3 linked regions of the Homo sapiens genome follow. The protein of the gene in region 3 interacts with the protein of the main gene of each other region in a biochemical or structural test. Each region holds a gene or a part of one and is shown on either strand. Other genes may lie near its edges. The genes, in order: NFIB, IFT172 and LHX3.

Region 1 (3,652 bases), about 120 Mb from region 3:
GATGGGTATTACAAGCCTATAGGAACTTATTAATTGACGGGGCTCATGAATTTTGAGAAAGAAATGCTGAATTCACTGTACAAAGTATTGTCCATTTTTCTTATAGGGTTCCTTCCTAGTCTTTCAGAAACCATAAAAAAAAAAGAGCATCTTTCCAATGGCTGAGAAAGAATGAGTGGTGCATGCCTCTGATTGTCTCTGATTCACATGGAAATTTCAAGATCATGGGGATTTTCTTGCTCTAAGAAAGAAAAAAAAAAGGTTTGAATTGAAGATATCTGTATAATTGGTGAGGTGCATGCTAATTCCACCAATTCGATAGCTTTATCCATTCTACTTCACCAATTTGTACATTCCAGCTCCAGTACTAAGAAGCTGACAGTTGGGTGAAACCACCTCAAAATTAATTTCTTCTATACTTCTAAGTATTTTACATGAAAAAACAAAGGAATGATGCGGCTTATTGGTACGTGTTAGGAAGGTTCACTGGCTAAATCTCTGACATTTAAATGTTATGGCCACACTAAAAAGCACAGTATTTGATGTACCAATGATAAGCAAAATAATCAAAAGGTTTTAAAAAAAAAGCTTGCAGATAGTGAAAGTACAGGTAGCTTACATGTGCCTAATACTAAGTTTTGAAATGTCCTCATCTGTTCCCAACCTTATGCGACTGTTTTTAACAATGACATAACCTACAATGATGTAAACATGCAATTACCTTACAGAGGCACTGATTCCATCTGCTTTGTGAAGGGGCTTGATTTCTATAGGAATGCTCCAATAAGTACCAATTACCTAATCTCTCTTTGGGTGATACGAAAACTTTGTATTCTGCGTTATGTTACTCAGTGCAATTTCAATGTATACCTTGAACAAGCAGGCATGACTTATTATTTTTGTTATAGCTGTTAACTTAAACAAGTGAGCTTCTCCCTTTTCAAATATGATTCACTGACTGGAATTTGAGAAGAGAGAGCCTGTGATAGCAGGGCCACATCCATGCCTGCTAGCTCCACTTAAATGAGAAATCTCCATCTGGTCAGGTAGCTGGAAAAATTGCCGTGTTTTCCACCTTGGATCAGATATCCAATGGTGCCTCTGATGGACATTTCTCATTTCCTATGGAAATACTTACTGGTTGCTGTAGGTGAAGCTGCCTCACCTTCAGTGGATGTAGTGATGGGTTTAGTATCTGTCATGCTCAGGGTCACAGGTCGCACTGCACTGGGATGGGGAGAGGGTGCCAAGACAGGAGTGAAATGGCCAGGCACTTTCCCTACTACTTGACCACTGCCGTTAGGCTACAAAACAAAAACAGAATGCCGGGTGAAGCAATCCAAAAGGCAGTCATCTTGTTCAACAAGTCCACTCAGCACACACGACTGTGTGGATCCAGCACACTGCGCATAGGCGCCACACAGGCCCTCTCGAGTCGGAGTCGGAGAGGCCAGTCAATGGTTGGTAGTAATAAGGAGCAGCAGCATTTCAAAGAAGGTTTTCATCTTCAAAGCACGTCATGGTATAGGTGAATTCCTCTTTACAGCACCCCTGAGAGCCAGGTAGACTTGATCCTTTCATGTAGTAGGCCAAGAAACTCAAGTGCAGACTTAAATGCTTAGCCCAAAGGCTAAAATGGAATTCCTTACTGAACTAGCTACAGTTGGAACCCAATGCTTCCTTATTCTCTGCTCTTCATTTTCTATAATGAGTCAGTTTTGGCTTTTAGAACACAATTTTCACCTACATGATGATATCACTGAAACAAAGGACACAAAAATATCTAGGAGATCAAATACAACGAATTCTGGAATTTTCATCATTTACAGTCAAGAACCATTCTCCTGCATACAAAACTCTAGCTCTCTTACACACAGGTGTGCTGAGATGCACACATTAGGCAATTTAGATTCCGAGATCTATGGTCAACTTTTGATGATTTACTAATACAAGAAGATAGAATAAGATGTAAAGCATCTAAAATTTCAGAGGTCATACAATGATATAAAATGCTGAGCTACGTTTGTCCTTACACCTACAAATAAAAGATTTCCAAAGTAAATTAAACTGTACTGAGGGGAAGCAGAGGACAAGCAAATGAGCATTGTTATTTGAGTTACTCTTACATCCATGGTGGTGCATGGAGAGTTACACAAAACATTTCTTGTTGACATTTGTGAGAATTAACTGAGAAAATCCCCTGGGCAATGATAGAAAAGATGTTACTATCTGAGTTTTAGCTCCTGGGTACAAAAATAGTTTCCGTGGTAGGAAACAAAATCCTAAGGATACACTCTTTGAAGAAATAGTGGAATATATTTTTCTAGACTGAGAATGTTATTTTTGATTATACCCATGTTGGAATTCTCCACTGCACGGTGTTCATCGCAATTTGCTGGGAGGCTATTCTCGGCAAGTATATAGTCTTTATAATCTGAACTGTTAAAGGCAAAAAAAAAATGAAGCAGAATATTTTTCTAAATATCTGCACATAAATTACAAGTAGACATTTATTTAGAGAAAAAGATGAACAGCTAATAACACTTAAATATTGTGACTTAGAGACATGAACTAAGTCTTCGGTTAGGCTCCTCAGAGGCCACATTATTTATTCTATAAAGAAAATGGACTTCCTGAATATCCTGATTATTCATCATGGGTAATTTTAAGTATTTAACTTGATGTCAGGAAAATTGACCAGAGTTTTCCAATATGGAAACCTATGGGAGAGTTACATCTTTAAACTAATTTTATTCAAAATATTCCATTGAATAGCATGACTGTCTCACTATAATTGGTGCAGCAGTAATGCAATTAATCTCAAAATTGCTGTGGGGAGGAAAAGGCATCTCAGTTGCTTATCTTAAAAATCAAAATCAGTGCAGTGCTGGAGAATATTGGGAAGCAACAGCTGACTAGAAGTGAATGGTGAAGGAATACTGATGTTTTTCCATTTCTAAAGCTAAAATGGTAAATACCAAGAATTCTAATTTGAAATGCAAATTAATTGGTTTTGAGTTGGAGTTAAAAATCAAAGCAGATACACTGTTCCTTAAAAAAAAAATCTGCAGTTAACTATAAAGACCCATTTTTCCTTTCAAAGGGAAAAAGTAGTTTGTTTCTACAGCAGGCCATCCATTTCTGGTTATCTGAACACTGGAAATAAGTGCTTTAAATATCTTAAGAAAGAAGACAGGTCTCATTTTATCATTGGTGGTACATTCAATGGTAAAAATGTTTCTACATACAGTGTTCACCAAAACAGTCTGAAAGTACCTACCTGGAACAAAATGTCTGGAGCAGAATGACAATAATTTCAAGGAAATGCTGCCACCAAATATATTATCCTACCCTGACCATTCTACAAACTTCACCTACTGGAATTGAACAACATGAACTAGTAGACACTTCTCTCATTTGAAAAGAATAAAGGTGACAAAGAAAGAATTCCCAAGTCAATGCAGACAACTTTCCTAAAACTCAGGGTGAGAAGAATTGAGGGCTATTTTCTCCTCAGTTTTCTACTGGTTCAAACAGATGAAGCTACACTAAAAATTTCTATCTTTTAAGGCTGTTAATAGATGAACTTTCATACTGTAGATAGAAAAGAGAGATGTCTTGTCTGAAGGTGAAGCTAACAGCATTAGGAAAG
Region 2 (3,652 bases), on a different chromosome or scaffold from region 3:
TTTATTTATTTATTTTTGAGACAGAGTCTTGCTCTGTTGCCCAAGGCTGGAGTGCAGTAGCATGATCTCGGCTCACTGCAAGCTCTGCCTCCCAGGTTCATGCCATTCTCCTGCCTCAGCCTCCCGAGTAGCTGGGACTATAGGTGCCTGCCACCACGCCCAGCTAACTTTTTATATTTTTAGTAGAGACGGGGTTTCACCGTGTTAGCCACAATGGTCTCGATCTCCTGACCTCGTAATCCGCCTGCCTCGGCCTCCCAAAGTGTTGGGATTACAGGCGTGAGCCACTGCGCCCGGCCAACAGTGGCAGATTATTAAGTGCTGATTATTTTTAATGAAGTAAATTATTTTTAAGTGCTGATTATTTTTGATAAAGAGAAAAGAGGAAGAAATAACTTTCTTAGCTGGTGCTGTGTGAGTGTGGGCAACTGTACAAATGTAAATGCAGAGTCACAACATTGTGACTCAGATCAGGGAGCAGTGTTCATTCTCTGGAGGAAGTCAATAAAGGCCCTAGAGGTGTATGCAGGATTCATCTCTGAAAGACAGGTGCCTGTGTATTTGCTAACAGCATGGGGAGCTCCACGGGTGTTTCTTCAAACAGAAGTTGGAAGTTTCTGCAAACCTCCCCATGCTCTTAGCAAATACACAGCCTCCAGAGAGGCTGTACATTTCTGGAGATGCGTGGGGGGCTCTGGGCATGACGTTCTCTAAGGATAGAATCCTCTGAGAAGATAGTTCCTGAGAAGATAGGTGGTTCTAGAGGAGAAAGAGCTTTCTTGTGGAAACATTCAACCCAAGGAGAAGGCTGGTACCTGTGGGTTAGCAGGGGCTCCGTGCTGTACATACAGGGCCAATGCCTGGGCAGAGCTACCCTCCCGGATCAAGTGAGTTGCATACAAAGCCACATACTTGTGCAGAATCTTGTAGTTCTGTACAGGGGTGGAGGAAAAGCATGAGTGAGGCTGGGATCGGCAAGACCAAGCAGTGAGGTGACTTGAGGCCATGTATTTGTTGAGGGGAAAAAGGGTGTACGCAAACCTCTGACCCCAGTTTCAGACTGAGCTTCTCTGATGCCCATTAGAAATCTTTGGGCTTTGGGTTTTTGTGGAGGTAGAAGAGATGCATCTTTGAGGCAGGTGGGGAATCAAGGGAAAATGTAAAGAAAAACTGGGAATGGGAAGAGAGCAGTACCTGCTTGGTAGCTGTTTCAATGCACTTGTCCCACTGGCCCTGCTCCACATACAGGTCCAAAGCAGCTATCACATCCACACCCACCAGCTGGGTCAATGGAAGACAGAGTTACAAGAGAAAAGAGATGACATGAGGGAAAGAAGAGGGAGAGAGTCTTGTGAGTCTCTCCCTGCATTCTGCCTCCTGCTAACTCTCCAAGTCTCACCGAGTCCACTTTGCCCTGATTCTTGAGGAACTCTTTATAATGCTGGTCCACATAGTCTTCATACCTGTGAAGATGTTCAGAGAGCTCCATCTTCATGTTCCAGAATACCAACCCTCCCGGTAAGACTTTCTCCCAGTCTTTACAAAAGGAAGTAAAAGAGAATTTCGCAGTAAGAAGGGGTTACAAGCTTACCTGGGATCTAACTCCTTAGCTACACGCTTCGCCTTGTTCCACTCCTCACCCTCGATGAAAGCATCGATTGCTTCCTTGACAAGGTCCAGATTCAGATAGAGCTCTGCAGCCTGCACAGTGGGAAATCAGCGTGGAGACTTTCTCCTCGCTCCCAGTCTTCCCACTGTGAGCTCTCCCATCTGTTTCCCCAGGACTGCAAGCCATGCCCACCAGGAGGCCCACCTCACACACCTTCCTGGGTGTAGATGTCACCCTTGCACCCATCTCTGTGAAATCTATTTCTGTTCCATCTCAGCATCCTACTTACTGCACTGTGCTTTCCAATTCCAATCAGCTGGGGTCCTACAGCCAGAACGACTTCCATATTACGTTGGGGAGGCAGAAACTTGATGGAGAGTTCAGCTGCCTGAGTGGTTGAACAGAAGATGGAAATGGGTAGGAGAGACAAATACCGCTGAGTCCTCAGCCTCATCCATTTCATACATTTTTCTCCTCCAGATGCCAACTTTTTCTCTTACTCTCCCCTTCAACCTTGCACCCTCCTGGGCAAAACCTGGCTCATGGTCCATTAGATCCTTTGATTAGCCATCAGTGGACCTATCTTTCCTCTCAGTTCATTAACTCTTTCAGATACTTCCTGCGCTGCCTGAGGTCACTGCATTTGAAACTTCCGCCTTTGACAAAATCATTTTCAAGGTCTTTGTCATAAGTAAAATCTTCGTAGCAGAGTACAGAGAAAGGACTCCTAAAATAAGGAGTCCAGGGCATTCTGTAACTATTTGTGTTGGGCTTTTATGAACTTGTTTCTTCATTCACACACACTGGATTTTGAAGATTTAGTATAAAAAAAGAATGGAAAATATCTAAATAATGTGTGTGAGTACATGTTGAAATGGTAGTATTTTATTTAATTTTTTTAAGACAGAGTCTTGCTATGTCGCCCAGGCTGGAGTGCAGTGGCACAATATCAGCTCACTGCAACCTCTCCCTCCCAGGTTCAAGCAATTCTCTTGTCTTGGCCTCCTGAGTAGCTGGGATTACAGGCACCCACCACCATGCCCAGCTAATTTTTGTATTTTTAGTAGAGATGGGGTTTCACCATGTTGGCCAGGCTGGTCTCAAACTCCTGATCCTCAAGTGATCTGCCCACCGTGGCCTCCCAAAGTTCTGGGATTACAGGCATGTACCACTGCGCCCAGATGAAATGGTGTATTTTAGATATACTGTGTTAAATAAAATATATTACAATTATTTTTACCTGTTTTTTTTTTTTTTTACTCTTTTTAAATGTGGCTACTAGAAAATTTAAATGACATGTATGGCTTACATTTGTGGCCTGCATTATATTTCTAGTGCCAGTGCTGGTATAGATGGTCTTGATGATAACCTTTCAACACTTAAAACTCAGAAATTCTACAAACCCAAGTGTTCAATGAGATCACTCTGTTTCCATTATGATGCTGACATCCTTACCAGATTTCAATTTCCACACAATCCAATTTCACTGTAGTTTATGCTAATCCCCTCTGGTCTTTCCCTCACCTGTTCTTGCCTCCCTTTCTTACTGCCAAGCCCTTCAAAGCTTAATCTGCCCTGTCTGCATCAGGAAGCCATTTTCTGACTAATCTGAAAAAGGTACAGTCATGCCATGCTCCCAAGTTACATATATCAGATGCTTATTCAATACTGCTGATTAAAATCTGCTAGAACCTCAAAACCAATCATCAGCCCCTCTCTTTCTACTTCTCTCCCTCTAACTTCTAGGGGTTATTGAGTTTTAAGACCTCAAAAGGCCAGGCACGGTGGCTCACGCCTGTAATCCCAGCACTTTGGGAGGCCAAGGCTTGTGGATCATGAGGTCAGGAGATGGAGACCATCCTGGCTAACACGGTGAAACCCCGTCTCTACTAAAAAAATACAAAAAAATTAGCCCGGCATGATGGTGGGCACCTGTAGTCCCAGCTACTCAGGAGGCTGTGGCAGGAGAATGGCCTAAACCCAGGAGGCGGAGCTTGCAGTGAGCCGAGATTGCACCACTGCACTCCAGCCTGGGCGACAGAG
Region 3 (3,341 bases):
CTACTTATTTATTTATTTTTCGACGGTTCCTGGGAGGGGTTGGCCGCGGGGGCTGGGGGGCGGAGAGAGGGAGGGAGGAAGGAGGACTGCGCGCCCGCGCTCGGGAGAGCTGGCCGGAGCGGGCGGGCTGGCGTCCAGGCTCCGCCGACCCCGCCATCCCTGACACAGGAGCCCCCGCCAGGGCTGGAGTCGCCATGCAGCGTAAGGCTGGGGTCGCGGGCGCGGCGCGGGGTGGGCTGGGGCGGCTTTTGCCCGACGCGGGCGCCGGCGGCGAGCTGCGGCCGAGGCGCTGTCCGGTCCGCGGTGCTGAATCCGCGCTGTGTCGGCCTGTCGGGCCGCCCCGCTCCGAGCCGGGTCCTCGCCTGCGATCGCTGCCCACGATGGGGACCCCGGGCGCGCAGCGGGTCCTCGACGCTCCGCACCCGGAGCTGCGGTTTTGCCGGATGCGGGGCGCATTCATCGCCGGTTTCCCGCCACTGCGTGGGGAGGCGCAGCCCAGTTTTTTCCGCCGGAGGTCGAGGGAGCCCCTTCCTGGTGTCTCTCACCCACTGGGAGATGGGCTGGAGCCGGCGGGGTCCACAGCCAGGGAGGCGGGTGCAATATGTCAGTAAATCCCGGTCCCTTCAGCGGGCACTCCTCTCTTCCAGAGACTTTTTCTAAGTGAAGAGGGAGTCCTCAGCCCTTGACACCTGGAAAACCCGCTCACAGACTCGAGGCTCCCACAGGGCACCCTTGGACCTCCCCAGTGTGGTTCCTCCAGGGGGCCTGCAGTACCGAAGTGGGGTGTGGGGGGCAGAAGCAGCGGGAAGCCAGACGTTTGAGTAACTCTGACGGTGTTGGGGGCACCCACGCCTGACACAAAGGCAGTGGATCGGCTTGTCCAGTCCACTCATAAGTAATTTTGCGGCTGCCCAATGATGGGGAAGGCATTGATATTTACCCCGGAGGCCTGCAGACAGGGCCACCAGGCAGGGCAGCCACATTTGCGAGGAGTCCCTAGAAAGAGTGGCCATGACGCTTAACATGAAGGAGACCCGATGGGGTGCCCCAGCTCCAGGTGATGGTGAAGACCCGTTTCCCTATGTTTCCTGCCGGGCTTCAGAGAGCAGATCCCCCTGGGGTGGGGTTTTCATTTGAGCTCCACATGCACCCTTCTTGGCACTGGCAACATTTTGTAATTGAGTATTCAGCCTCGTGAAATGGCCTGGGCTGCTTTCTTGCTCACACACATTTTTAGACCGATGTCAGTTTCCCCTTAGCTCCTGACATAGGATGCGGTGCCTGCACACTCCCGGAACTTGCGGGGCCACTTAAGCTGGCTGGGGAAGAGGGTGTGTAGGGAAAGGAGGACCCCTCGGCAGCCCTGAGTCCTGTGGGCCGGAGGGGAGACTGGCTCGCGTTGGGGTGGGAAGGTGGCTTCACTGCCTCCTGGTCTACGAGGTGACCCAGAACTTCCTCGTGCCCACAGAGATCCCGCTGTGCGCTGGCTGTGACCAGCACATCCTGGACCGCTTCATCCTCAAGGCTCTGGACCGCCACTGGCACAGCAAGTGTCTCAAGTGCAGCGACTGCCACACGCCACTGGCCGAGCGCTGCTTCAGCCGAGGGGAGAGCGTTTACTGCAAGGACGACTTTTTCAAGTGAGCCCCGAAACCTCACCTCAGTGTGGGAGCGGAGGGCACGCCTGCCCCAGGGACTCCTCCCCTCACAATCACCAAGGCCAGGCCCTCGAAGCCTGCGTCTCTCGCAATCCCAGCCCACTCCTGTCACCCAGGCAGGGCACCCTGTGGCCTGGCCAAATTAAGGGTGGGGCCTCTCCATGGGTGCTCCCTGGGTGGCTGGGCCTGGCTGGGACATCAGCAAGTATTATTTGGAAAAAAAAGCAATTTATTACCTAAATCACAGAAGCAGTCATTAGAGAAGATACACCCCTATTTGTAGGATTCTACTGGACTTAGTTCCTCCGAAATTGGTGATGTTTTAGTTCCTAATGCTGGCACCCAGCGGCTCTGGCCCAGTGGCCTTCATGGCTCCAGCTGTGGGGTGTGAGGGACTGGCCCCAGATGGGTCCTCTCCCTCCGGATTCACCTTCCCAGATCCAGCATGGGTCCTGCAGGCAATGGCGGCTGGGCTCCCCGAGGTCTTTCTGAGATTGAGGTTCCCTTCTCAGTGGGAGTGGGCAGCTCTGCCCCGGCGGCCAGGCTGGCGACCACCCTGCAGGGCCGGACAGAGCCTTCCTCCGGGGCCGCCTTCCCAGGCAGCCGCTTGCCTCTCTCCAACCCGCTCGGGGCGAAATGAGCCTCGCGCTTCCGCGCTGAGCCCGGCCCTGTGCGTCCCGCAGGCGCTTCGGGACCAAGTGCGCCGCGTGCCAGCTGGGCATCCCGCCCACGCAGGTGGTGCGCCGCGCCCAGGACTTCGTGTACCACCTGCACTGCTTTGCCTGCGTCGTGTGCAAGCGGCAGCTGGCCACGGGCGACGAGTTCTACCTCATGGAGGACAGCCGGCTCGTGTGCAAGGCGGACTACGAAACCGCCAAGCAGCGAGGTCAGCCGAGGGGACGACGCTCCCACCTTTCCTGGTCTGAAAAAAATGGGGCTGAGGCCACGCCCAGGGGGGCGTCCGGGGAAATTCTCTCCCCAAGCGCTCACTAAGGGGGCCTGGGCTAGGGCGGTGTAGGCAGCAGGAAGCCGAGGCCGGGAACGGCGGAGTCACGGACAGACCCGCGTCCCGAACCGCTTCGTTCGGTCCGAAGTGTGCGGCTTTTCGCCCCTGGTCGGAATTATCGCCCTAAATTCTTGGCCGCGAAGGCTGGGCCATACCCACACCCTTAGAATAAAGGGGAGCCCGCGGGGAAATCAGGGTGCTTGGAGAAGGGAGCCAAGGCTGAAGGCGGGGGCGCCGTGGAGGTGCGATTTTAGGGAAGGCGCCGCCCCCGCCCCCGCGGCAGAACCCGCCCTCCGCCGGCGCCCCCTCCACCCCAGCCCGGGTGCTGCCCGTTTTTGCCAATCGCTCCCAGCGCCCGCGCCTTCCGAGAAGCCTGTGGGGCGGGATGGGGGTGGGCACCTGAGGCCCCGACGTCCCCGCGCCGGCCGGGGTGGGAGGGCTGGGGGTCCGGCCGGGGCCGGAGGGGCTGCCGCGCCTCACCGCTCGCCCGCCGCGCAGAGGCCGAGGCCACGGCCAAGCGGCCGCGCACGACCATCACCGCCAAGCAGCTGGAGACGCTGAAGAGCGCTTACAACACCTCGCCCAAGCCGGCGCGCCACGTGCGCGAGCAGCTCTCGTCCGAGACGGGCCTGGACATGCGCGTGGTGCAGGTCAGCGCTCGCCCCTGCTTCCCTCCC

Evidence for each region.
Region 1: the proteins of LHX3 (region 3) and NFIB form a complex in vitro, tested with the Homo sapiens proteins (one study listed by BioGRID).
Region 2: the proteins of LHX3 (region 3) and IFT172 form a complex in vitro, tested with the Homo sapiens proteins (one study listed by BioGRID).

What each region holds. Positions count from the first base shown.
Region 1 is NC_000009.12:14,115,043-14,118,694, forward strand, and holds part of NFIB (nuclear factor 1 B-type), read right to left. Parts: intron 1,305-3,652; coding exon 1,166-1,304; coding exon of another isoform or gene 1,139-1,165; intron 1-1,138.
Region 2 is NC_000002.12:27,448,100-27,451,751, forward strand, and holds part of IFT172 (intraflagellar transport protein 172 homolog), read right to left. Parts: intron 1,998-3,652; coding exon 1,899-1,997; intron 1,702-1,898; coding exon 1,592-1,701; intron 1,464-1,591; coding exon 1,400-1,463; intron 1,282-1,399; coding exon 1,195-1,281; intron 933-1,194; coding exon 816-932; intron 1-815. UniProt on the Homo sapiens protein: Required for the maintenance and formation of cilia. Plays an indirect role in hedgehog (Hh) signaling, cilia being required for all activity of the hedgehog pathway.
Region 3 is NC_000009.12:136,198,881-136,202,221, reverse strand, and holds part of LHX3 (LIM/homeobox protein Lhx3), read left to right. Parts: intron 1-194; coding exon of another isoform or gene 195-201; intron 202-547; exon of another isoform or gene 548-1,011; coding exon of another isoform or gene 1,012-1,057; intron 1,058-1,468; coding exon 1,469-1,640; intron 1,641-2,341; coding exon 2,342-2,544; intron 2,545-3,162; coding exon 3,163-3,314; intron 3,315-3,341. UniProt on the Homo sapiens protein: Transcription factor.